Homo sapiens: one gene and its partners. The protein of the gene in region 1 interacts with the protein of each later gene in a pairwise test. Each region holds a gene or a part of one and is shown in the gene's direction. Other genes may lie near its edges.

Region 1 (6,395 bases):
CAGATCTGGAAAGAGTTACCTCCCTGAAAGTATATAATTGGTTTGCTAACAGAAGGAAGGAGATCAAGAGGAGAGCCAATATTGGTAATGTATCAGTGAGGCTGCTTTTCTCTTGTGCAGCAGTTGTGAACGTCATGTTTATATTAAGATTAACTTCAGTTTAGAAACTGCAAGTCTAAAGGATCCTAACTTCTCTTTTTTTTTTTTTTTTTTTTGAGACGGAGTTTCACTCTTGTTGCCCAGGCTGGAGTGCAGTGGCGCGATGTTGGCTGACTGCAACCTCTGCCTCCTGGGTTCAAGTGGTTCTCCTGCCTCAGCCTCCCGAGTAGCTGGGATTATAGGCATGTGCCACCACACCTGGCTAATTTTGTATTTTTAGTAGAGATGGGGTGTCTCTATGTTGGTCAGGCTGGTCTCGAACTCCCGACCTCAGGTGATCCGTCCGCCTCGGCCTCCCAAAATGCTGGGATTACAGGTGTGAGCCACCGTGCCGGATCCTAACTTCTAAGCCTAACAAAAGTTGCCCTAATGTCTTTCATTGTGTTTTTAATAAACCACAGTTAGTATTATTTACACTATTTGTAGTGTAATGGTAATGACATTATTATTTATAAAACTCATTCTTCTTAAAGTTCTAGAATATAGAATTAGACATGGCCCCTGAGCAATTGATTACTCCTGTGGTACATTTGAAAGATACTTGTAAGATCTTGAGAAAGGGAATGTAATACCCAGAATTTCTTCATTATTACTGGACTATGACTTAAATATTAGGAAACAATTGATTAATGGTTTGGAATGAAAGAGACTTAATAGACAAGGAACGCAGCAAAAGGCAGAGATAAAGAGCATTTAAGAAATATGGATTCTTGATGTAATCATTTATGTATATATACACATATCAAAACATCACCTTGTACACCATAAATATATACAATTTTTATTAATTATATTTCAATAAAGCTGAACAGAGAAAACAAAAATGCCAAAAGTGCCCTAGAGGGAACTACGAATACAACTGAAAAAGGAAGAAATAAAGGATTTGTTCCCATTCAAAACTGTAACAGTAATAAATAAGAATAAGAAATTTAAGTTGGTGAGTCAGGTGGGATGTTGGTTTTTAGCTTCTAAAATTGCATTTCATTTCTTCCATCCAAGTACTAACCAGGCCTGACCCTGCTTAGCTTCCAAGATCAGACGAGATCGGGCGCATTGAGCGTGGTATGGGCATAGAATGCATTTCATTTCCTTCCTTTGTAAATACACTTTTTATTCATCAGTACAGTTCTCATATGCTCTATAGAACCCCAAGATAGGAAGACTGTTTAGTTAGTTAGCAAGTATTTATGAAGCACCTAACATGCACAGCAGCAGAGACCCCAGAATGGCAAATGTGTGCCTCCCCTGACCTACATGCAGTTGAATTTCATCCATCTTACAGTCTAAAAGAAACAAATGTAGAGAAATACAGGTTCTTGTTTAATTACATTCTAATTAATTTCCTTAGCACAAAAATTCATTCAGTGTTTCAGCCATTGTGATAAGGTAACAGATAATTTAGGGATCTATTTGCTTTTTTCGAAGAAGCAGCAATCCTGGAGAGTCATGGGATAGATGTGCAGAGTCCAGGAGGCCACTCAAACAGTGATGATGTCGACGGGAATGACTACTCTGAGCAGGTGAGCCCCTGCGCAGCTGGGCGAGGTTCTTGGTGCCTGAGCAGGGGGTATAGTGGGACAGCTTAGTTCCTTGGGTGTGGCTGATGGGGTGGGGGAGGGGAAACAGTCACTGTCCCTCCACTCTGCTCCTGTGTCTAGTTAGATTTCATGTAATTTGAAAGGAATGTGGTAAGATTCAGTTGTCCTGTTGAATTTGTGAGAGATCGTTATTCACCCACATGGATTTATTGTCATACAACAGGATACTTGGCAAGTACGCAATGGGGAGGAGGAGGAGGGAAGAAGTTCAGAGGGAGGCAGAGAAGCAGAGAAGGTAGAAGAAGAGAGGAGGATCTGATCCAAACAAGCAAGTTACACCATTCACGACACACACTCAGTGTTTGAGAAATACTAGGGGCAGCTGGACCCCATGCCTAAACACGTACCGACGCAGGGCACGATGGAAGGCCCCACTCACTCTGGCCCCACTGCAGTGGGAACCCTCCTGCCCAAAGGAGTGGTTCTTCCAGAGTCTCTGGCACACTGACACATGCATCCTCTCATAAGTGCAATACCTGCATGACTCTTCACCTCGCCCTGATTTATTCTGCATTGCTTTTGGGGAAAATGTATTTAATTGTAGCCACTGCGTGGAGTAATTCAGTAACTAAGACTGTGGGAGTCCCTCCTCGACCCCCACATAGATGTTGACAGATTTCATTAAAATTTTGATAGGATTTAAATTTCCATTTGGAATATGCAGAGAACGCATGGTACCTTCCCCTAGACCACAGCAAGAAAACTTCTGCTCATTTTTCTGGGGTCTGTGCTTTTTTCTTGCTCCTCAGCCAGCTCATATAGTCCAATGTGTTCTTTAATAGCCTCTGTTTACCACACACCTAGAATGCATGCAAGTGTGTGCTGATCCCTTTGTAAATTCTAAAAACTAATCTGTGAACATCAGAAGGAAACAATGATGTCCACACTTCTGAAGAACTACCATTTTTTCCCATTTAGGACTCTAGTTAATAGCCCCAAGAGAATATTCTGTAAGTCTTTCTGTTCGGAAACATTCCTCTTTTCAGTCTACCCACATAGATGGATCATTTCCATCTTTTTTTACAGATGCCCTAAGGGCAGCACATTCCATGTTTTGTTTGTTTTTTTCCTTAAGGGACTTACCCTTTCCAAAGCTCTTTGATACGGAGTTCCCCTGAAGATGACAGGTGAGAAACATACCCCTTATTTGTAACACCATCTTCAGTGCCTGACGTACATCCTGCAATGCCAGCTTCCTTCACAGCTTTATTGTTTAACACATTGAGCTGCGCGGGGAGGACAGCTTCACACTAGTTCTAGGTAAGACGCCTGCCGCTCCCCTTGCACAGCTGCCTGCAGCAGGAGAGCTCGACACCTTCCTCCCCTTTCTCCCGTAGCCGTTTCTGGCAGTGACATGTGTCCTGTTGTAATGGAGAATTCTTTTTTTCTTTTTTTACAAAAATGCATTTTTTATCTGTAAGATGTAATTGTAAGTTCTGTCTAGTTTTCTCAGTTCAGAGAGGGACCATGAATTCTAATAATCTATTTGTAAGAGCAGCAATCTGGAATTTAATAGCTCACTAGTATGGCCTTCAGTGATTAGTGCTATATTTGTTACAAACAGAAAGATCCAAATTGTTGGTTTTATATCAATCACTGCAGGTTTGATCATCATCACCAGCAATCTTATTAATAGAATGAATAGAATTCTCAGTGATGAAAAACATTTTTTGTGCTTTTTACTTGTTGAATCATAAGATTATCAACTGAAAATCTTTGGACCTATATCCATTCAGTGTCTACTTAAATACAATTTACCTCTATTTTATCATGAGCCCCTCCCCCAGTTTCCTCCCACGAATGTTCTGCCTCCCCTTGCCCCAGCATGTCTCTCTGTGACTAAAGAATTCTTCCAATCCACTAATAACATTTCTTATTTCTGCACATCTAGGATGACAGTACGAGCCATAGTGACCACCAAGACCCCATCTCATTAGCTGTGGAAATGGCAGCAGTCAACCACACTATCTTGGCATTGGCCCGACAAGGAGCCAACGAAATCAAGACAGAGGCCCTGGATGATGACTGATCAGGGAGGTTAAACATGACAAGTTAACTTAGTTTAGACGTAGCACCTTAGCAGACTTTCCTCGGTCCTTAACATGTGTTCTTACAGTATAACTTGCAGTTTCTTGTATGTCAGGTAGCTGTTAGGGTCTTGTTCTGTGAAGATGGCATGGTGCCCTCAGCCTTTGCATATACTCTCTCAGTATTAACTCCCAGTAAATAATAACCAACCAACCAACCAAACTTCCCTCTCCCAGCCCCCGAGGCTAGAAAATCTTGCTGCTCCGTCTTAGCATTCCAAGAAAGTGCTTCCAGGTATTTAGATAGCCCTCAGTTCTCAAATATTAGACTACGTGTAAAATCTTGGGTACCTTTAGATTCTTGTAACACTAGTCTGTACTCCCTTTTCCTTCCCCAAGACTGATAGGATGCAAGCTGAGGTCGTGGCACAGGAATGACAGACACCATTTGGGGAGTATCCACAGAGTCAAAGGAACACTAGAATCCCCACCTCAGCGTGAGGATAATTGATTTCCAGCTGCAATAAGCCGTGCCTCATTATAGCCACACTGTGGCTAGATTATACTTCTTTGGGTGCTGTGCTAAGAATGTCAATGGAAAAAGCCGATCTCAGATTTTGTTTGAAGTTAACATGCCTGACACAGACATCCTTTCCTCTCACAAGCTGTGTGACTTAGTAGATAAAATACTGCCTTCTGCCTTTGGGACCATGATTAAAAACAAAGACAAAAACCAAAAGTCATTAAAAAAAAAAAAAAAAAAAACCCAGCTTGAGAGCATTGGAAAAAAAAAATATGAGCTGAATGTCTAATGGATGCTAAGTCCAGTTTTCAGAACCACTGTACATTCCACGGCACAGTTAGCAGTGCCTGCCTGGAAAAGTTTTGGAGGTCATCGTGGAAGTTGCTTTGCCTCCTGTCAGTGTCCCCTTTCCCTGCTACCAAAAAAGTCTTTCAAGGATGGAGCTAAGGTCAAAAATGAGTGAAAAAACTTGCAGTGTTTGTATCCATTAAACGGAAGCCCCCTCACTCTGAGAGGTCACTAGAGGACTTCATAGTGGGGTTGTGCTGCTTATCACAGATGCAGACACTTGCCCAGATAGGAGCAGAGAAAAGCAGGGGACGTTTCCTACTCACATTGTGGCTGTATGAGAACACGATGGGACTGCTTTGCTGTTCTCTTTACTCTGTCCTTGGAGAGGTGTGAAAAGCTGTATTGCTACAGGCAATTTATTTAATAATTGGAAGCCATATTGATAATGGATGTGGTAATATTTGTAAAGTTTAATCTACTTTAAGCGGCAGTAACTAATGGAATTTTTTTCCTTGATCACATATGTAGCACTTTTGTTACTTTTTAAAGATATTTATATTTGATAAATCTTTTTTTCATTTTGAGAACTCAAAATACCAAACAGTGAACTTGCATTCTAAAGTCACCCTGTGATCACCTTGTCATCTAGTAGCAAAATGATGAACTATTCATGCATCAAAGAAAATTACATCTGCTGGCCTTGTATGAAAATGATCTCTTGGCATCCCGATTAAATGACACACTGTCACTGTGGGTAAGAGGAAAGAGCCTTCAATGTAGCAGCACAGGGTGCGCCTGAAAGAGGCACAACTGCTGTGGATTTTCTGCCTCGCTCCATCTCTCCTATGTATAATGAAGCCTTGTTTAAAGGGGCATGTGGGGCTGGATGTTAAGCACGGCTTCTTTTTGTCCGTTACCTGAAAACAATTTCTAAGATAAAAGGAAGGTGCCATTTCCTTACCTCTTCACCCATCCTCCTCCACCAAATGTATTCAACTTAAAACTGTGAGAGAGAGAGACTGAATGACCTTCCTCAGTTTTCCCTTTCTCATTCAGGAGATACTGAATATCCGCCAGTTTGTAGTTGGTTTCCTTCCACTTAAGGCACACGCTGACTGCATCATTTCCTTATCTGTTAATCCTGCTTATGTGAGTGTGAGGAAAGTCTTTGAGAGGGCATGAAAGTGCCACCTTATATATGTCTGTGACTTTAAAGAGCTATATGCAGGGCCTGGTCCCACTTTTGTCCATGGATTTCAGGGGGAAAAAATATATGTACTTTTTTCAGCTTCCAAGCATTGAAGTGAAGTGGAGCCGTCTCTTCTGTTTTACTGTATTACTTGAACCAACAAATTCAAGAGTAGCATTTGTTATTCTCAGGAATGAGCCTCCCACCGCCCCCCCCCCACCGACTCATATTCTTTTTTGGTTTATCTTTTTATTTCAATTAGGAGATTACGTTCTCTTCCTTTCCTTTTATTTTGCTTAGAGGAAATGTAACATAGTCCCATTTTTGTGGAATTTTGACGCTTATTCTCAATTGAATCAGAAAGTACAAGGAGACAGAGAAAAAATCCGCTCTGACAAGCCACATCCATGATTGATTGTAAGGGGATTATTATAATTGATAGCTTCTTTATCATGGGATTGCTAGTATCATTTGTACTTGCTGGTCTTTTTAAAGGAACAGACTGACTCAAACTGTTAAGACAGCTGCAGTTTCTAAAGAAATACAAAGATTGCCGTGGATGCACTCAAAGGTTTCATTGTTTTAACACCTTTAAGGGAGAAAAAAAG
Region 2 (7,027 bases), on another chromosome or scaffold:
TAACATGGGGGTACAGGTATCCTTTTGCCATACTGATTTCCTTTTCTTTGGATAAATATGAAGTAGTGGGATTGCTGGATTGTATCGTAGTTCTATTTGTAGTTTTTTAAGGAACCTCCATACCATTTTCCATAATGGCTGTACTAATTATACACCAAGAGTGTATAATTATTGCCTTTTTTCTGCATCTTTGCCATTATTTGTTATTTTTTCTCTTTTTGATAATAGCCATCCTAATTGTGGTAAGAGGATCTCTCAGTGTGATTTGCATTTCCCTGATGATTGGTGATGATGAGCATTTTTTCGTATACCTGTTGCCCATTTGTATGTCTTATTTTGAGAAATGTCTATTCAGATCCTTTTCCCACTTTTTAGTTGGATTTTTTGTTGTTGTTTTTTGACTTCTTGTATATTCTGTATATTAGTCCCTTGTAAGATGAATACTTTGCAGATATTTCCTCCCATTCTACATTTTGTATCTTCACTGTTGATACTTTCCTTTGCTGTACAGAAGCTTTTTAGTTTTTAGTTTAATGTAGTCTCATGTGTGTATTTTTGCTTTTGTTGCTTGTGATTTTGAAGTCTTAGCCATAAAATATGGCTAGTTTAGGCCAGTGTCCTAAAGCATTTCTCCTGTGTTTCTTCAAGTTGTTTTATAATTGTGGAACTCATGTTTAAGTCTTTAATCTATTTTGAGTTTATTTTTGTATAGTATGAGAAACAAACATCTAACTTCATTCTTACTCATTTTGGAATTCACTTTTTCTAATACCATTTATTGAAGATTCTGTCCTTACCCTAAGGTATGTTTTTAGTGCCTTTGTCAAAAATCAGTTGGCTATAAATATATGGATTTATTTGTAGATTATCTATTCTCTTTTATTGGTCTATGTGTATTTCATTTTTGTTTTTGTTTCTATGGACAGGGTCTTGCTCTGTCCACCCAGGCAGGAGTGCAGTGGTGCCATCACAGCTCACTGCAGCCTCTAACTCCTGGGCTTAAGTGATCCTCGTGTCTCAAGTAGCTAGGACTATAGGCATGTGCCACCATGCCCAGCTAATTTTTTTTTTAACCTTTTGTAATGATGGGGTCTCATCGTGTTGCCCAGGCTGGACTCGAACTCCTAGCCTCAAGCAATCCGCCTGCCACAGTCTCTCAGAGCACTGGGATTACAGGTGTGAGCCACTGTGCCTGGCCAGTGTCTATTTTTAGACCAATACCATGCTGCTTTGATGACACTAGCTTTGTATTATATTTTGAAGTGAGGTAGTATGATGCCTCCCACTTTGTACTTTATGCTCACTATTGCCTATTGGAGGTCTTTTTGGTTCCTTATGAATTCTAGGAGTATTTTGTCTATTTTTATAAAGAATATCACTGGTATTTTAATAGGTATTGCAGTGAATCTGTAGATTGCTTTGGGCAGTATGGTCATCTCAACAGTATTATTTTGCTCCATGAACATAAGATGTCTTTTCATTTGTTTGTGTCCTCGTCTATTTATTTCATTGTTTTTATCATAGAGAACATTTAATTTGGGGTTGTTTATTCATATACTTTTTTGTACCAATTATAAATGGGATTGCTTTCTTGATTTCTTTTTCACCTAGTTATTATTGGCATATAGAAACACTACTGATTTTTTTTTCTGATTTCATATTGTGCAACTTTATTGACATCATTCATCAGTTCGAAGAGTGTTTAGGTTTTCTATAGGTACGATCATGTCATCTGCAAAAAGAGACAATTTGACTTCAGTTTTCCAGCTTGGATGCCTTTTATTTCCTTTTCTTGCCTTATTTTTTTCTCTTACCATAGTTCTGACTAGGACTCCCTGAACTATGGTAATAAGAGTGGTGAAAGTAGACATTCGAATCTTCTTCCAGTTCTTAGAGGAAAGACTTTTATCTTTTCCCCATTCACTAAGATGTTTGCTGTGGGTTTGGAACATATTGTCTATATTATGTTGAGATATGTTTCCTGTACACCTGATTTAAGTTTTTATCATAGGCTGGGTGCGGTGGCTTATGCCTTTAATCTCATCACTTTGGGAGGGCAAGATGGGCAGATTGCTTGAGCTCAAGAATTTGAGACCAGCCTGGACAACATGGCGAAATCCCATCTCTACAAAAAATATAAAAATTAGCCAGGCAATGGCACCTATGGCTTGACTACAGGCAGGCACCTGTAGTCTAGCTATTTGGAAAGTTGAGGTGGGAGGATCGTGTAAGCCTGGGAGGTCGAGGCTGCAGTGAGCCATGATCATGCCACTGCACTCCAGCCTGGGTGACAGAGTGAGACCCTGTCTCAAAAAAAAAAAGTTTTTATCATAATGGGATTTTGAATCATATCAAATCTTTTTCTGTATCTGTTGAGATGATCATATGTCTTTTGGTCCTTCACTCTGTTGATGTGATGTATCACAAGTATTGATTTGTGTATGTTGAATCATGATTGCATACTTGGGATAAATCTCATTTGATCATGGTGTATTATCTTTTCTGTGTTGTTGCATTGGTTTTGCTAGTATTTTGTTGAGGATTTTTCCATTTAGCATCATCAGGGATATTGGCCTGTAGTTCTCTGTTTTTGCTGTGTCCTTGTCTGGTTTTGGTATCAGGATAATGCTGGCCTTTTAGAATGAGTTAGGAAGAATTCCTCCCTGCCCTGCTTCAATTTTTTGGAATAGTTTGAGAAGAATTGGTGTTTGTTGTTCTTTATGAGTTTATTAGAATTAAGCAGTAAAGCAATATGGTTCTGGGTTTTTCTTTCATAGAAGACTTTTCGTTACTGATTCAGTCTCATTGTTGGTCTATTCTCCAGGAATATATGCAGAACATGTCCTGCGGCCCAAGAATCTTGGACTTGCACATCAGAGGCAACAGCAACTACAATTTTCTGATCAAAGCTTCCAGAGTGACACAGCTGAAGGTCAAGAGAAAGAAAAAAGCACTAAGCCCATGGCATTTTCCAGCCCACCCCTAAGACATGCAGTAAGCTCAAGGAGGAGGAACAGTGTAGTGGAAATAGAGTCTAGTCAAGGCCAGAGGGAAAATCCTACAGAAATAGACAAAGTATTGAAAGGAATAGAAAATTCAAGATGGGGAGCATTCAAGTGTGCAGAGCGTGGGCAAGACTTCAGCCGGAAGATGATGGTAATCATACACAAAAAAGCACATTCCAGGCAGAAACTTTTTACATGCAGGGAGTGTCACCAGGGCTTTAGAGATGAGTCAGCATTGCTCTTGCACCAGAACACACACACAGGAGAGAAGTCCTATGTGTGCAGTGTGTGTGGGCGAGGCTTCAGCCTCAAGGCCAACCTCCTCAGACACCAGAGGACACACTCAGGAGAGAAGCCTTTTCTGTGCAAGGTGTGTGGACGAGGCTATACCAGTAAGTCATACCTCACTGTGCATGAGAGAACACACACAGGAGAGAAGCCTTATGAATGCCAGGAGTGTGGGCGAAGGTTTAACGATAAGTCCTCATACAACAAGCACTTGAAGGCGCATTCAGGGGAGAAGCCTTTTGTGTGCAAGGAGTGTGGGCGAGGCTATACTAATAAGTCATACTTCGTTGTGCACAAGAGAATACACTCAGGAGAGAAGCCTTACAGATGCCAGGAGTGTGGCCGAGGCTTTAGCAATAAGTCACACCTTATCACACACCAGAGGACACACTCAGGGGAGAAGCCCTTTGCGTGCAGGCAGTGTAAGCAAAGTTTTAGCGTGAAAGGAAGTCTCCTCAGACACCAGAGAACACACTCAGGGGAGAAGCCTTTTGTGTGCAAGGATTGTGAGCGAAGCTTTAGCCAAAAGTCAACTCTTGTCTACCACCAGAGAACACACTCAGGGGAGAAACCTTTTGTTTGTAGAGAATGTGGGCAAGGATTTATTCAGAAGTCAACCCTTGTGAAACATCAGATCACACACTCAGAGGAGAAGCCTTTTGTGTGCAAGGACTGTGGACGAGGCTTTATCCAAAAGTCAACCTTCACTTTACACCAGAGGACACACTCAGAGGAGAAGCCTTATGGATGTCGGGAGTGTGGGCGAAGGTTTCGGGATAAGTCCTCCTATAACAAGCACCTGAGGGCACACTTGGGTGAGAAACGTTTTTTCTGCAGGGATTGTGGGCGAGGCTTTACCTTGAAGCCAAATCTCACCATACATCAGAGGACACACTCAGGAGAGAAGCCCTTCATGTGCAAGCAGTGTGAGAAAAGTTTTAGTTTGAAGGCAAATCTTCTTAGACATCAGTGGACACACTCGGGGGAAAGGCCATTTAATTGCAAGGATTGCGGGCGAGGCTTCATCCTAAAATCAACTCTCCTCTTCCACCAGAAGACACACTCAGGGGAGAAGCCTTTCATCTGTAGTGAATGTGGGCAAGGATTTATCTGGAAGTCAAATCTTGTGAAACACCAGCTTGCACATTCTGGCAAGCAGCCTTTTGTATGCAAGGAGTGTGGGCGAGGCTTCAACTGGAAGGGAAATCTCCTCACACACCAGAGGACACACTCAGGGGAGAAGCCCTTCGTGTGTAATGTGTGTGGGCAAGGCTTCAGCTGGAAGAGAAGTCTCACCAGACACCACTGGCGGATACACTCAAAGGAGAAGCCTTTTGTTTGCCAGGAGTGTAAGCGAGGCTATACCAGTAAGTCAGACCTCACTGTGCATGAAAGAATACACACAGGAGAGAGGCCTTATGAATGCCAAGAGTGTGGACGAAAGTTTAGCAATAAGTCATACTACAGTAAGCACTTAAAGAGACACTTACGTGAGAAGCGTTTTTGTACAGGGAGTGTGGGTGAGGCTTCATCTTGAAGTTATATCTCACCATCCATCAGAGGACACACTCAGGAGAGTAACTTTGCTTTGTTACAAGCTTTAGTTGAGGCTGCATAACTTGTTCGTGAAGATATAACAGAGGCAGACAGAATCCAGAGGGCTACAGAGAACCTGAATTCAACCCATGTGTCCCCAAGAGATTCAGAGAAAAGAGGTCAATGTTTAGGGAACAGAGATGCCAGTTGAGGGGAGGGCATTACCTGGGCTATTGGGGAAATGTGGTCTCTTTCCTACTGAGCACATATTCTTGTTGTATTTGTGCCAGGCTGTGCTTTCTAAGGACTGCTCTTAGCCAGTGACTGCAGAGCAGGGATACCAAGGCAGGCCTGTTACACTCTCCCCAACCTCCTTGGACTGCAAACAATCTAGGACACCTCCACCAAACCTCCTCTTGCACTTTCCCTCTGGCTTCCCTCCCAGCCTTCCTTGGTTTGGATGTTTTGTCCCCTCCTTAATTTATGTTGAAACTCTACATAAACTGTTTACTGTTGAAACAGTGTAAGTATTAGGAGGTGGGACCTTTGGGAAGTGATTAAGTCAAGTCACGAAGATAGAGCTTTGCGAATGGGATCAGGTGCCCTTATGAAAAGGCTTGATAGAGGGAGTTTGTCCTGTGGCCCTTCTATTTTCTGCTCTGTGAGGACACAATGCTCCTCCCTTCCAAAAGATGCAGCATGAAGGCATCATCTTGGAAACAGACATGAGCCCTCAACAGACAACTGCACCTACTGATGTTTTGATGTTGAACTTCCCAGCCTCCAGAACTCTGGGAAAATAAAGTCCTCTTTATACATTTCCTAGTCAGTGGTATTTTATTATAACAGCTCAAATAGACTAAGTAACTGCTCCCCTCATCATTCTCTCACAGTCATATCTGGAAATAAAATCTCTGTATATGCAGTCCCATATTGGTCTTTGCAGAGAACTCCCTCCAACACAGCTGATACCAAGAACAGTCTGACAAAACAAGTGGTAAAATAGGGATCTGGGGACCACTCACCTGCCTGGCAGGAGTAAAGCATGTTGGCTGGTGGGGCACAGGTAGGTGGTTAGCTGCAAAATATTTCACAGGTGATTTCCTGAGAAAATGCCTCAATGATAGAGAATGCTGTGGCAGATGTGATGATGCAGGCCTTTGAAAATGTAGGGAAAGTGCCTACAAAGAGCAGAGTAGACTGATTATCGCCGATCTGCATTACCACCTGCAGAAGGACCTTGAGAAATTGAAGACTTCATTCAGCCATTAGCAAACAGTTAATGGTTAAGTAAACCAGGACTCCCTGGTGAGTGCTTACAAGGCCTTTATCTTCTTGGATAGAAGGCAGAATTATTGCCCAAATATGTGGGCTGAAGGCCTGTAGCAGAGCTCTACAGATGTTGGAATGCTCAGCCAATGCATGTCTATTTTGTAGAGGTCAGACCCTTCGTAAGGAAAATCTGGGATCCTGAAAAATGACACCGGAACATCTCCATGGATGCCCAAGATTGCCTCTGCCATGCTCCCAGCCACAGACCATCTGGGTGTGTAGAGATGGCCCATCCTTCCTTAGGAATAGCATTTCCACCATTCATTACCACAGAACCTTCACAATTAAGGCCAGCTTAATGAGCATGTGCCCTACATAGCTGCACACAACCCTTGTCCAGCACAGGGAAGATACATGCAATATGCCTATCCTTTTGTAAATGGTATTTGTGATGCTTGCCCTTCAACTTCCATAACTTTCCTCATACTCATTTTGAGTTTCACTGCACATTGTGGGTTCACCAGAATTCTGTGCTCCTCTTCCATATTAAACACATTTACATCTGAGTGATCTGGGACACTGACAGCCCCAAGAGACACCACTGTCCATTTGGACCCAGAATTTGATTTGAACTCAGAAGACAATGTCTTAGCATAAACAGCCAAGGAACCCGGTCAACGCATTTCCTGCTCAAGTTCCTCTTATTAGCCAACCACTTGTGTTGAAAATGATCACACACAAGGGATTGGAAACATAAGGCAACTCATAGCTACTTTCTCTGTTTCTTACTCAACTTGAAGTTAGAGTGCACTGGTAGAATGTGCATATGGAGAAGTGAAGTAAAACAGTTGAATTAGACATTAGACACAGTGGTTCACGTCTATAATCCCAACACTTTCTGATGCCAAGTTGGGTGGATTGCTTGA
Region 3 (7,027 bases), on another chromosome or scaffold:
AGGAATGCTGCAAGGACTGTGGTGACTCTGGGCTCATGGGAGTGCTCTCCTGGGAGTAGTGGGGAGGGGAAGAGTGGTTTAGGGGGAGCATCCGATAGGACCAGGTAGCCACTGAGCATGCCTGTCTGGTGGGCATAGCCTCTGTGCCTGGTGGGGTCCAGCCCTGTATGTGGACTTCCTGGGGGACCGCCTGCATGCTGGGAAAGTCCTGCAACTGTGGGCTCTGGGCCGGACCCCTCCTCCTTGGGGAGCGTTGCTGTGGTCTCCGCAGCCTGTTGGTGTGGTCTGAGAGGGGACTGGTGTGTGGTGGTAGGGACGCAGGTGCTCAGGAGGGCTCCTCAGGCTGCCTCTCTGCCTGTTACTGCTGCTCCCTCCCTGGTCCTGGGGACTCGCTCAGGCCTGGATGTGTGGTTTTGGACACCTTGGAAAGAGGTTAGCTGTGAGTTTTGCTTTGATTGGGCTTTGAGCTGCTGAGCTAGATCTGTCCAAGCATGCTTTTGTGGTTTTCTCGAGTCTTTGGTCACCCTGCGTAGAATTACCTTTACTTTTGCCTTCATTTTAGGTAATCATTACCAAATGAGGAGGAAAGGACGATGTCATCGAGGCTCTGCAGCGAGGCATCCTTCTTCCCCATGCAGTGTTAAACACTCCCCTACGCGAGAAACGCTGACCTACGCTCAAGCTCAAAGGATGGTAGAGATAGAAATTGAAGGGCGCTTGCACAGGATCAGTATTTTTGATCCCCTGGAGATCATATTGGAAGATGACCTCACTGCTCAAGAGATGAGTGAGTGCAACAGCAACAAGGAAAACAGCGAGCGGCCTCCTGTCTGCTTAAGAACTAAGCGTCACAAAAACAACAGAGTCAAAAAGAAAAACGAGGCCCTCCCCAGCGCCCACGGCACGCCGGCCTCGGCCAGTGCCCTCCCGGAGCCCAAGGTGCGCATCGTGGAGTACAGCCCTCCGTCCGCCCCCAGGAGGCCTCCTGTGTACTACAAGTTCATCGAGAAGTCGGCCGAGGAACTGGACAACGAGGTGGAGTATGACATGGACGAGGAGGACTATGCCTGGCTGGAGATCGTCAATGAGAAGCGCAAGGGCGACTGCGTCCCCGCCGTGTCGCAGAGCATGTTTGAGTTCCTGATGGACCGCTTCGAGAAGGAGTCGCACTGCGAGAACCAGAAGCAGGGCGAGCAGCAGTCTCTGATCGACGAGGACGCCGTGTGCTGCATCTGCATGGACGGGGAGTGTCAGAACAGCAACGTGATCCTCTTCTGCGACATGTGCAACCTGGCCGTGCACCAGGAGTGCTACGGGGTGCCCTACATCCCCGAGGGCCAGTGGCTCTGCCGCCACTGCCTGCAGTCGCGGGCCCGGCCCGCCGACTGTGTGCTGTGCCCCAACAAGGGTGGTGCCTTCAAAAAGACAGATGACGACCGCTGGGGTCACGTGGTGTGTGCCCTGTGGATCCCAGAGGTCGGCTTTGCCAACACGGTGTTCATCGAGCCCATCGATGGGGTGAGGAACATCCCTCCAGCCCGGTGGAAACTGACATGCTACCTCTGTAAGCAGAAGGGCGTGGGTGCCTGCATCCAGTGCCACAAAGCAAACTGCTACACAGCATTCCATGTGACGTGTGCCCAGAAGGCTGGCCTGTACATGAAAATGGAGCCCGTGAAGGAACTGACTGGCGGTGGCACCACCTTCTCCGTCAGAAAGACCGCTTACTGTGATGTCCACACGCCTCCAGGCTGCACCCGGAGGCCTCTGAATATTTACGGGGATGTCGAAATGAAAAATGGCGTCTGTCGAAAAGAGAGCTCGGTTAAAACGGTCAGGTCCACATCCAAGGTCAGGAAGAAGGCAAAAAAGGCTAAGAAAGCTCTGGCTGAGCCCTGCGCGGTCCTGCCGACCGTGTGCGCTCCTTATATTCCCCCGCAGAGGTAAGCGTGTCCAAGCATTGAGTCCACAAGGAGCCTGCAGTGTGGGACCCTGGGAGGACGTGGGCACAGCCTGCAGGGCCCGTGCTGTGTGGTCATTGCGTTTCTAGTTGGCGCAGCTTCCTAATATTCCCCTGAAGTGTGGTTCTGCTTGTTTACCACGTCTTTTTGGGGAATAGATGTTGTAAAAGATTTTAGTCTGTAGGCTTGGAATAATCTGTAGTTTTCTATGTTTTTTTTTTTGGAGACGGAGTTTTACTCTGTCGCCCAGGCTGGAGTATAGTGGCGCAATCTCAGCTCACTGCAACCCCCGCCTCCTGGGTTCAAGCAATTCTCCTGCCTCAGACTCCTGAGTAGCTGGGACTGCAGGCGTGCGCCACCATGCCCGACAAATTTTTGTATTTTTTAAGTAGAGACGGGGTTTCACCATGTTGGCTAGGCTGGTCTCAAACGCCTGACCTCAAGTGATCTGCCCGCCTTGGCTTCCCAAAGTGCTGGAATTACAGCACTTGCTCAGCCTTTTTTTTTTTTAAATAGGGTTTTGCTCTGTTGCCCAGGCTGGAGTGTAGTGGCACGATTTCAGCTCTCTGCAACCTCTGCTGCCAGGTTCCAGCAATTCTTGTGTCTCAGCCTCCTGAGTAGCTGGGACTACAGGCGTGTGCTCCCATGCCCAGCTAATTTTGTATTTTTAGTAGAGGCGGGGTTTCACCATGTTGCCCAGGGTGGTCTGGAACTCCTGAGCTCAGGCAGTCTGCCTGCCTCTGCATCCCAAAGTGCTAGGACTATAGGCGTGAGCCACCATGCCCAGCCGTGCGTGAAGATTTTTAAGAATTTCAGTGACTAAACTTTAAGAAGGAATGAAGCCCACGCAGGAACTCTGTATGACTTTCAACCCGAGGGGCTCTGGCCTGGGCTTCCCAGTGACTGCCGGCATCGGGACATCCACTGCTGTGGCCTTGGCCCCGTTTCCCGTGCTGTGCCCCCCACTTGCTGCAGATGCCCTGAGGAAAGGGTGGCCAAACAAGGGGAGGAGCTGTGAGCACAGATGGGGCCTGCCGGTCAACAGGGCGGGTAGAGCCAGCCTGGTGCTGAGCTTGCAGCTTGGCTGGGGGAGACGCCTAGAGCCCCAGTACCACACAGACCCTCCAGGACTGCCGGGGGTCAGTGAGCAGGACCCTCTGAGGTGTCAGACCTGCCCCACATGTGAGGGGAGGACAGCACAGGTGGGACGCATGCAGGCTGAGCTGCATCGGGCGGTGAGGCTGGGAGGTTGCAGTGAGCTAAGATTGTGCTACTGTACCGCAGCCTGCGTGACAGAGTGAAACTGTGTCTCAAAAAAAAAAAAAGAAGTTTTAAGTGATTTTTGTTAATATTACTCTACTTTACCAAAGTGAAGTCCAGTTTCTTTTCACAGAGCTGTAAATACTCAGATAATTAGTCAATTCAGACAGAATGAACAAAAAATGCTCATAATCCTTCCCATCCAGGGAAAACCCTGTCAAAACCAAGGTGTTTGTCTTTGTAAATTAATCTGACTTTGAAGAGATGGTTTTGCTTGGATTTCTACCTATGAGTCAAAAAGTCTAGGGTTTGTATTAAGAGCTTCTGTATAAGAGGTCTAAAAATTTCAGCTTTACTGAAATTGAAGCAAAATAAACAAAATGTGATCTAACAAAATGAAGAGCCAAAAGTCTGAAGTGCTCCCTTCCCTGGCCAGTACCAGATGATGACCTGCTCTGGGAGAGGCCGGGCCTGGCCGGGCCGCACGCTCTCTGTTCTTTGGCTCCTGATGTTGGGTAGGCAGGACTGAAGGAGGCAGTGTTTGCATGCAGGACATGGGGGCTGAAGTGGCCAGGGCTGATTGAGAAGAAAACTCGACCTAAATATTTGAAAGCATGTATTGGAGCTAAACCGCGTACTGTGTGGTTCTGTTCTTTTCCTAACTTGGGAATAAACTATTATTTCAGCTTCGAGTAGAGAGAGAGAAACAAACCTGGACGAGTGTTCCTGGCCGCGGTCTCTGCAGTCTGGGTTTCCCAGTCTCCAGGAGATGCTGGTGCTTCAGGCCACCTTGCCACCAGTGGAGGAGCTCCCAGTGCGCCTGGCCTGTTGGCACCATGGTGCTGGACCCACCTCTGGGGTGGTTGTGAGGGGCAGGCTCTCAATACAGTACTGACTGCTGCCTGAAACCGGGTTTACTGCCTTGCTGTGGTCTGAGAGGCAGCTGATCTGGCAGCCCTGTTCTTAGGCCCTGGGCACTACCCCTGGGTGCATGTAGGAGGCCTCAGCTGTGCATTTGAATTCTGTGTAGATGAGGGTGAAGCTTCTTATTTTTTATTTTATGTTTAGAGACAGGGTCTTGTTCTGTTGCCCACGTTGGAGTGCAGTGGCGTGATCATGGCTTACAGTAGCCTCAAACTCTTGGACTCAAGCGATCTTCCCGCCTCAGCCTCCTCCCAGCCTCAGCTGGGAATACAGGCACGAGCCACTGTGCCTGGCCCATGGTGAAGCTTCTTGATGTGCAGCCGTGGGCGGGGATGCTGAGTCTAGTTGGTTATGGTGTGCACTAACCAATGGCTCCGGTGTAGGACCCACCTAGAGCATCTGAGGATGTTATGCTTCAGGCCAGCCAGTCACGCTGGAAGGGAGATGAGACCCCATCTGAGCAGCGTTTTAGAGATTTTAGAGAAAGAGGATCTTCCTTATTCCCTGTGGACAGAACAGAATCTGCCTTCAGGGACGGACTGCTTTTATAATTCTAGTGGTTTAAAAAATTAAAATTTCAAGTAAAAAAGATAGTTCTTTTTTTTCCCCCCTTTTTTTTGAGGTGGAGTCTTGCTTTGTTGCCCAGGCTGCAGTGCAGTGCGGTGATCTTGGCTCACTGCAACCTCCACCTCCTGGGTTCAAGTGATTCTCCTGCCTCAGCCTCCTGAGTAGCTAGGATTACAGGCACCTGCCACCACACCCGGCCGATTTTTGTATTTTTAGTAGAGACGGGGTTTCACCATGTTGGCCAGGCTGGTCTTGAACTGCTGACCTCAGGTGATCCACCCGCCTCGAACTCCCAAAGTGCTGGGATTACAGGCGTGAGCCACTGCGCCAGGCTAAAAGAGATAGTTTTAAGGTTATAATCTGTTTTTTTGTAAGTTTGATATACTATGATTAAATAATAACAGCGGTAAATAAACACTTTGAAAAACAGGCAGGGCTGGGTGTGTGGCTCACACCTGTAATGCCAGCACTTTGGGAGGCCGAGGTGGGTAGATCACGAGGTCAGGAGTTCGAGACCAGCCTGGCTAACATGGTGAAAACCCATCTGTACTAAAAATATAAAAATTAGCCAGGCGTGGTGGTGCGCGCCTGTAATCCCAGCTATTCAGGAGGCTGAGGCAGGAGAATCTCCTGAACAGAGTCCTGCTCTTCTGCTCAGACGGGTGCAGTGGCATGGTTATGGCTCACTACAGCCTCGACCTCCTGGGCTCAAGCGACTCCCCCACCTCAGCCTCTTGAGTAGCTGGGACCACAGGCATGTGCCACCATGCCCTGCTAATGTTTTTATTTTTTGGTGAGATGGGGTCAAGCAATCTGCCTGCCTCGGCCTCCCAAAGTGCTGAGATTACAGGCGTGAGCCACCATGCCTGGCCTTACATTGATTTATTGTTATTTTTTCTTTTCTGTTCTTCTTTTTTTTCCTGAGATGAAGCCTCGCTCTGTTGCCCAGGCTGGAGTGCAATGGCATAATCTCGGCTCACTGCAGCCTCCACCTCCCAGGTTCAAGCGATCCTCGTTCCTCAGCCTCCCGAGTAGCTGGGACTACAGGTGTGTGCCACGGTGTCTGGCTAATTTTTGTATTTTTTTTGTAGAGATGGGGTTTCACCATGTTGTCCAGGATGGTCTCAAACTCGTGACTTCAGGTGATCTGCCTGCCTTGGCCTCCCAGAGTGCTGAGATTACAGGCGTGAACCACCGCACCCAGCCCTATTTTTTCTTTTCACTTCCTCTCTCCAGCATACATCAGTTTTTATTAACGGATTGAGTTGCACCTGTATAGAATGACATTTTTTTTTTGAGACGGAGTCTTGCTCTGTCACCTAGGCTGGAGCGCAGTGGCACGATCTCGGCTCACTACAAGCTCCACCTCCCGGGTTCACGCCATTCTCCTGCCTCAGCCTCCTGAGTAGCTGGGACCACAGGCGCCCACCACCACACCTGCTAATTTTTTGTATTTTTAGTAGAGACGGGGTTTCACCATGTTAGCCAGGATGGTCTTGATTTCCTGACCTCGTGATCCATCTGCCTCTGCCTCCCAAAGTGCTAGGATTAGAGGCGTGAGCCACCGAGCCCGGCCAGGAGGACATTTTGTCTTTAGTCTTAAAGGAAAAGGGAAAGTCTTTTCCATTTGCACCAGTTTGAAATTAGGGCTCCCTTAACATGGATTACTGCAGGACTCATTCACATGAGAGTTCATACATGGGGTGAAAAGACAAACAGGGTTTCCTGATAACTCTTTTTGGTTATTGCATGAAATGAGGGATAAATACACGCATAATCTGTTTAACAAAACTCCTAGGTTCATCAGAATGCAAAGTAGAAAGTGTCTTAAAAGAGACTGTGATCAGCAGGCAGACGGCCTGTGTCGGTTTGGTTCCTTTGACTGCTTCAGATCTTCTAGGAGGAGCTCCTCTACTACGAGAGCCTGGACTTCAGCCTCACGGACAAGAACCTCAGATAGGCAAGGCTTTGTGATGGGTGCTCCTCCTACCTTCATTCGAATGAGGTTTTCCTCCCGCCTTCACCCTGATAGGGTGCTCCTCCCGCCTTCACTGGTGTCATTTTATTTTGAGTTTAAAAGGATGAACTGGTCTTGGTCAGCCTTAGGAAGGGAAGCATCACTCAGGTGAAAATACGTGGCGAACTTTAAATACCTAGATATTCTCCTCATGCATTTAAATTAGAGTGACTTGAGCTGTTAGAAAAGTTGACTGGGTGCGGTGGCTCAGGCTAGTAATCCTAACACTGGAAGGCTGAGGTGGGTGGATTGCTTGAGCCCAGGAGGTCGAGGCTGCAGTGAGTTGTGATCGCACCTT
Region 4 (6,985 bases), on another chromosome or scaffold:
TAGGGCAGAAGCAAATGTGCAAGGACAGAAGAGATGTGAGGGACAATAAGAGAGGTGAGGGCTGGATGAGAGATGGTTTCCAGGTGTCTAGCTTGGGGGACTGGTACAGAACACAGGGGATGTAGTATTTTAGCATGTGATAGGGGTAAGATGTGGGGAAAATGTGAGTTCAGTTTTGTACATGTTCAACTTTGGGTGCCTGTGGCAACTTCAGAGGGCCAGGAGGCAGCTAAATATGCAGGTTTGAAACCCAGGACAGTCTGGGCTGGAGAAATCCAAGGAGTCACAGCTTGAAGCCAGGGGAGTGGTGAGATAATGAGGCATAAGACAAGAAGCGGAGACTAAGGAGGACCAACATTTAAGGAACAGGTGGAGGAACAGGGATGGGCCAGTGAAGGAAACCAAAAAGGAGTAGTCAGAGTGTCGGGAAAAACAAAACCAAACAGAAGAGCTGAGGGACTGGTCAATAGGGCCAGATGCAGCACAAAAATCAAGCTGCATCAGAACCGAAAACTGCCCGTTAGGTTTTCTTGCAACATGGTGGCCTAAGGACTTGGGCTAAACTTCCTCCTGAAAACAACTTTAAATACTAGACTCTATCTATCTTTAAAATTAAATGCATCCATAAGCTAGCAAAAATGTAAGAAACACACTGAGGCCAAAAAAGTAAATGAAAGCAAGAAGCTACAAAGGTAAGCAAAGCTCTGTCATTGGCTTTCATCTTGAGGGCAGTTGCCGAACCCAGAGAACCTGATCATTGGTTTTCAAGGGGTCTCTGGGCTTATGAGAAAGACAAAGCCCAGGGCCCCCTCACCATGGGGAGTCTATTTAGAAACTTCTCCATAAGGCCAGGACCTCAAAGGCCAGTGTATGCCTACACTGTGAAGGTGAATTAGAAAGAAACCTGCCCCTGTCTGACCTAACCTCTCTCCCTCAAACCAGGGGACTACAAAGAAAACTGCCTACATCCAACCTTGGTACTAAGAAAGGGGAATAATCTCCCCCTGAGAATTCTTTTTTTTCTTCTTCTTCTTTTTTTTTTTTTTTTGAGACAGAGTCTCGCTCTGTTGCCCAGGCTGGAGTGCAATGGCGCGATCTCAGCTCACTGCAACCTCCACCTTCCAGGTCCAAGAGATTCTCCTGCCTCAGCTTCCCAAGTAGCCGGGACTACAGGTGCCCGCCACCACACCAGGCTAACTTTTGTATTTTTAGTAGAGACAGGGTTTCACCGTGTTAGCCAGGCTGGTCTCGAACTCCTGACCTCGTGATCCACCCACCTCAGCCTCCCAAAGTGCTGGTGGCATGAGCCACTGCGCCCGGCCTCCCGCTGAGAATTCTTAACTGCAAGCAGGCAGTCGTCTGGTTTTGCAGACCAAATTCACATGATTTTGGTAGGCTGAAAAACTTCAAAGTGATCATTTAATTTGACATGAACATGGATTGGTAGTGGTTCCAGGTGACCAACAAAAGCTCCCTCTCCTCCTCTGCTGAGTTTTGGGATGTTCCCTCCTGAATCTGCAGACCTCTCCCAGGGTTGCCACAGGTTCTTGCCCCTATAGGTCTACACTTGTTCCTTAGAGAAGAAAGAGCCCTTCTGGCTCCCAAAGACTTATCTGCCACTTGGCTCTGAGCTATCCTGCACTAACATCCAAATCTCCTGGAGATCACCTTTGGTCTGGCCTCCGGAAATGCCCCCAACTCTCCCCAGGGCCTACTTCAGTCCATCTGTCCTAAATAGTGTTTGCAAAGGATGTTCAGGAGTCATTGCTGTGAGACTGGGCTTCTTTCTCTGCCAGATCCCTGGAACCTCCAGGGATGAGGAGGAGCCCTGGATGGGAAGCAGGAAGAAAACACATACTGACTAAGTTGTGGTCTCTGGGCTGAGCCCCCCACCCCTAAAACCCCTTAACTAAAATGAGTTTCAGAAGAAGCTAAGGTCTCATTGCTAGAAAGAGGCATAAACAGGTTTTGAACTCAGGACTAAGTCCAGAATTTGTGCATTTAAACCCCACTCCCAACACCATCTCCCCTGCCCACCACCACCTCCACCAGTGAAACCGCCAGCCAGCACCAGGCCCAAGGTATTTCACACCCTAGGCACAGGCCTGGAATCAGTTACTTTATTTTGGCTTTCTATTTCCTCCTTCCAAATGTCTCCTGCCTCTCTTTCTTCCTTCAATTTGTCTTTCATGTTGCAGATTTTTCTAAAATGCAAATGTAATCATCATTGCTCACTTGAAACCCCATCATGGTTTCATATTGCACTTAGGATAATGTCCAAACTCCTACAAGAATCTATTGCCACCAACTTGTCTTTCCAACCTCATCTCTGTTACTCATACCCTTCCCCTTCCCCACCCCACATATATTCTCTTAAAATGAATATAAATTACTTACTATTCTTTCTTTTCTTTTCTTTTTTTTTTTTAGACGGAGTCTCACTCTGTCGCCCAGGCTGGAGTGCAGTGGCGTGATCTCAGCTCACTGCAAGCTCCACCTCCCGTGTTCAAGCCATTCTCCTGCCTCAGCCTCCCGAATAGCTGGGACTACAGGTGCCTGCCACCATGCCCGGCTAATTTTTTGTATTTTTAGTAGAGACGGGGTTTCACCGTGTTAGCCAGGATGGTCTCGATCTCCTGACCTCGTGATCCGCCCGCCTCAGCCTCCCATAGTGCTGGGATTACAGGCGTGAGCCACCGCGCCCGGCCTACTTGCTATTCTTTATTGATGAAGACTTGCTGAATGACTTAGAGTCCTACTGGATTTTGCTTACCAGCTAAATGGGCCCCTCTCCTTCCCAGGCTCTCTATTCTTCAAGCTCAGATCAAGTTTCTCTTCTCAGGGAAGCCTTCATGGACCTTCTCAGGCCTCAGCAGCTGCTGCCAATGCCAGCTTCCAATGCCAGCTTCCTCCATTTGAACAAAACTACGGAGCTCTTTGCACTTTTAATTTTTTCCTCTTCCCTGCTAGGGTAGCTGGCAGGAGTTAATAAACAATAAAATACAACTGGAGGGGTGACAGGCAGGAACTACCGGGGCCTGTGGCAGACCAGATCTATGGCATGGTCTGCCACCCTGTCTGTGTGCCAGGGGCAAGATAAGCCTAACTTTCCCCAAGCTCGATTTCCTCATCTCATCTGAAAATGATGAATAAAAATATCCACCTCAGAGCTATTAAGAAAACTGAACCTAAGGTAAGCAAAGTCCTGCTCCTAGCACTTAAATGTAAGCTACTCTTACTCTAGTTACACATAAAGTTACTTCCAAAAACCTTACGAAATTCCCCGAGCACTGTCCATGGTATGTGGTTTCCCGGTTGCTTATTGGGTGGTCCCGAGAGCCTTCCTTTTTTCCTTCCTGAGGCGTGCCAAGTCCCCTCTCCTCTTCTCTGGGTGGTGCTGACGCCTTCTTCCCAGGCTGCACCTTTGCTGGGCCGGAGGATGCCCCCGGCAGCGGAGCGCCAGAGTGACCAGGCAACCTCCCCAGCCTCCACCCTCTAGCCCGGGCTCCCACCTCCGTCCTCCGGCCCCTCGAGTCACGTCGTCCTACTAAGGAGTTGGGCCGCAGCGCCCCGCGCCGGTCTGACCCGGAATGCCTGCTCGCCGCGGTAGGCCGAGGACAGGCGGGGCTCTGCAGGTCCCCAACCCACGTGCTCCCGGCCTCCTCCGCAGGGCGCCGCCTTCCGGCTAGGCGCAACACGGACTACATTTCCCAGGGTGAACAGCGGCGGGGCCTAGACTCGGCCGCGGCCTGGGGCGGCGAGCCGCTCCACCGCCTGCTCAGGGGAGTGCGAGCTGGCGCGAGGACAGGGCTAAGGACCCGGAATGAGTTTCCGCGCAGTTCCGCTGGGCCGTGCCGGCCTGTACCGGGCCGTGCCGAGCCAGAACTGGCAGGAGTGGGGGCCTGAGTTGGAGGTGCCGGGGACAGGCGCTCGGGGCAGCCCGCGCCTTGCCGAGGTCCCTGCCCCGTCCCGGCCGGCCTGGCTTGTCTTGTCAGTCACTGGGGCGGAGGCAGCGGCTGTAGCGGGGCTGTAGCCGGGCGTTGAGCACAGCGCGGGCCAGGCCGAACGGAAGGGACCTGCCACAGCCCCTCAACTCCACGGACTCTTCGCCCTAGACTAGCGGAGCTGCATCTCCGCGCTTCGTTGGACGCCTCCGTAACCACGAAGGGCTCTCTCTCTCCCGTGACCCTCCAGCCCCATGACCTGTTCATAGCAGCCGAGAGCTCACCCAGGCGGGGGTGTTGTGGGTACAGGCCATCGACCCTGTGACCCCTCAAGAGCCAGGGACTCGGTTTCCCCCGCAGGCCTCCCTCCCCTGTGACTCCCTCCACACAGATTCTGGGGACAGAGCTGTTACCTGCCACTAGGATCCCCGCCTGAGAGCTCCTCACTGACGGCTCCCTCCTCGGAGTCCCCTTCATTGGGTCTCCTAAGAGCACCAATTTTGGTCTCTGGCAAGCCTCCCACCCCCAAACGAGGTGGGGAGGCCTCGGCAGCCATGCCCGCCCTGGGCCCCCCCTCACCCCACCACTCCCTGGGCACCCAAGCCGGGGTCTAGCAGGGGGCCAGCAGCCAAGGGGCTGGGGCAGGAGACAGATCAGGGCCCACCTCCCTGCCAGGGAGGGAGCAAAGATGGAGCGGCGGGAGGAGCAGCCGGGGGCTGCAGGGGCTGGAGCAGCACCAGCCTTGGACTTCACTGTGGAGAACGTGGAGAAGGTATGAGGGCTCTGGGGTGGGCACTCCAGTGACAGAGCAGAAGTTCTGGGGACTGTCACTGATGGCAGAGCTCAGGCCTGGGCTGGGTGCCCGCTGGTATGGTGCCCCCAGAGCACCTGGCATTTGCTCTCTTTCTGGGCAGGCAGTATTGCAGTGCCCTAATGGGCTATTTTTGTCTTTCCTTACAGGCAGGTCCCCTGTGGATAGATACTCTAGGGTCTTGGGATGGTCCCTTCAGGGTGCTGTGACTTAGCCTTCCGTCCAGACTGGCTATGTTCCAGCTCCATGGGAACTGCATGAGCAGTGCAGTAGGAAACTGGGAACCCAGGAGACCTGCAGCTCAGTCTCCTGGAATTATACTGATGCCAAACCATCCTGGACCTGGTTTTGTTGAGCCAAGGGCTCAGAAAATAATCTGGAACTAAAACAATCTGGGTTGTTTTGACTCTTTGGAGAAGGGTCCTTCCTTTATTGGATGGAAGCCAGACCAGTCCTGAGCAGGCAGGCCTGGGGCTGTCTCCCTTTGTTTTGTGCTGAGTCCAAGGGTCCTGGCCCTGCTGGGAGCCTTACAGGGCTCCTCCCTACTCGCCTGCCCACATAGCTCCCTGCCATGGCCCTCCCAGGCTCCCCGACTGCCCAGCCCATCTTTCTGAACTGCCTCTTTGGTTCTTTTCTGTATCTGCTCCCTACAACTTGAAATGCAGGAATGCATGCACCCTGGGATGAATGGGGAGATGGGGCTCCCTTACTTGAAAGCAGGGAATGATGTTCACTTGTTATCCTTAACCCCCGTTTGCCATAACAAACAATGAGGATGCATCTCTTCTGCCTGCTTTGGCGTCCCTGAGGGGCCAAACAAGGGCCAATGGCCATAACTGGCTGTCAGGGGTACAAATAGAGCTAAGCTTACTTGGATGGAGCCTGCTTAGGGGTCAGGGTCCTGGCCATACTCTTCCGCCCCTTGGAGCAGGGCAGTGTTGGCATGGTGGCGCACTGTTCCATGTGCTATTGGGAGATAAATCTCACTGTTTTCTTACTTCATAAAGTCCCGTTGGAATTGAGACCCCGGGGATTCTGCTAGTGGAGAGCACTAAGCTAGGTGTTTGCCAGGGCTGCAGCTATGGCCAAGGCTTCTCTGGATCAATTGGTTGGACATGTGCCCTCTGAGGAGTGTTCTCACCCTCTCCTCCAGCATGTCTGCCCCAGGGCTGCCTGGCAAAAGTCTTAGTCCTGCTCTGATTTCACACTGGCTTTGGTGCCAGCATCTGGACTGACCTAGGGATGATCCTGGGGGAGCTGAAAGGAGCTGTTGGAGTTGATGGGAGCAGCTGTGCCTGGGAGGGTCAAGTCCCCTCAAGCTGTTCCATGCCCTTCTCAGACTTAGCTTCATCCCTGTGAAGCTGTTCCTTCCACCTGGGCCTTGCCCTCAAGTGCCTCCCCTTTGGGGAGATCAGCCTCCTCTTTTTTGCTTTCCTGTGGAGATTCCCTCTCTGAACCCATAATGTTTTGCTGTAAGGAGAAGAGGATATGGTAGAGCATGGGCAAGGTTCAGGCTCTCAAGATATCAGCAGGACCCCAGGCCCAGGAAACACTGCAGAGCGCTGAGCTCTCCCTGCTCAGCCCCCCAGTCAGGGAGAGGGAGCAGCCTTGCAGGACCAAGTCACGCCTCTGTTCTGGGCTCTGGCAGGATCCAGAGTGGCCAGCACCTGCTCAGTCCTGTGCTGTCCTGCAGGCGCTGCACCAGCTCTACTATGATCCCAACATTGAGAATAAGAACCTGGCTCAGAAGTGGCTGATGCAGGCCCAGGTCTCCCCACAGGCCTGGCACTTCAGCTGGCAGCTACTGCAGCCCGACAAGGTACCAGAGATCCAGTACTTTGGGGCCAGTGCTCTTCACATCAAGATCTCTCGCTACTGGAGTGACATCCCCACTGACCAGTATGAAAGCCTAAAGGCACAGCTCTTCACCCAGATCACCCGCTTTGCCAGTGGCTCCAAGATTGTACTGACTCGGCTGTGCGTGGCACTGGCCTCACTGGCTCTCAGCATGATGCCTGACGCTTGGCCATGTGCTGTGGCAGATATGGTACGACTCTTCCAGGCTGAGGACTCACCAGTGGATGGGCAGGGCCGCTGCCTAGCCCTGTTAGAGCTGCTGACAGTGCTGCCTGAGGAGTTCCAGACCAGTCGCCTACCCCAGTACCGCAAAGGCCTGGTGCGGACCAGCCTGGCGGTGGAATGTGGGGCTGTCTTCCCGCTGCTGGAGCAG

Evidence for each region.
Region 2: the proteins of HMBOX1 (region 1) and ZNF337 interact in binary tests that used the Homo sapiens proteins (3 or more experiments, as listed by UniProt).
Region 3: the proteins of HMBOX1 (region 1) and BRD1 interact in binary tests that used the Homo sapiens proteins (3 or more experiments, as listed by UniProt).
Region 4: the proteins of HMBOX1 (region 1) and IPO13 interact in binary tests that used the Homo sapiens proteins (3 or more experiments, as listed by UniProt).

The regions. Positions count from the first base shown.
Region 1 is NC_000008.11:29,047,370-29,053,764, forward strand, and holds the end of HMBOX1 (homeobox-containing protein 1), read left to right. Parts: coding exon 1-84; intron 85-1,584; coding exon 1,585-1,679; intron 1,680-1,920; coding exon of another isoform or gene 1,921-2,016; exon of another isoform or gene 2,017-2,025; intron 2,026-2,832; coding exon of another isoform or gene 2,833-2,859; exon of another isoform or gene 2,860-3,017; intron 3,018-3,648; coding exon 3,649-3,786; 3' UTR 3,787-5,893; downstream 5,894-6,395. UniProt on the Homo sapiens protein: Binds directly to 5'-TTAGGG-3' repeats in telomeric DNA. Associates with the telomerase complex at sites of active telomere processing and positively regulates telomere elongation.
Region 2 is NC_000020.11:25,672,835-25,679,861, reverse strand, and holds the end of ZNF337 (zinc finger protein 337), read left to right. Parts: intron 1-1,787; exon of another isoform or gene 1,788-2,824; coding exon 2,825-4,830; 3' UTR 4,831-6,667; downstream 6,668-7,027. UniProt on the Homo sapiens protein: May be involved in transcriptional regulation.
Region 3 is NC_000022.11:49,817,867-49,824,893, reverse strand, and holds part of BRD1 (bromodomain-containing protein 1), read left to right. Parts: exon of another isoform or gene 1-167; coding exon of another isoform or gene 168-432; exon of another isoform or gene 433-562; coding exon of another isoform or gene 563-576; coding exon 577-1,943; intron 1,944-3,907; exon of another isoform or gene 3,908-4,060; intron 4,061-6,510; coding exon of another isoform or gene 6,511-6,672; intron 6,673-7,027. UniProt on the Homo sapiens protein: Scaffold subunit of various histone acetyltransferase (HAT) complexes, such as the MOZ/MORF and HBO1 complexes, that acts as a regulator of hematopoiesis.
Region 4 is NC_000001.11:43,942,969-43,949,953, forward strand, and holds the start of IPO13 (importin-13), read left to right. Parts: upstream 1-3,981; 5' UTR 3,982-4,632; coding exon 4,633-4,716; intron 4,717-6,448; coding exon 6,449-6,985. UniProt on the Homo sapiens protein: Functions in nuclear protein import as nuclear transport receptor. Serves as receptor for nuclear localization signals (NLS) in cargo substrates.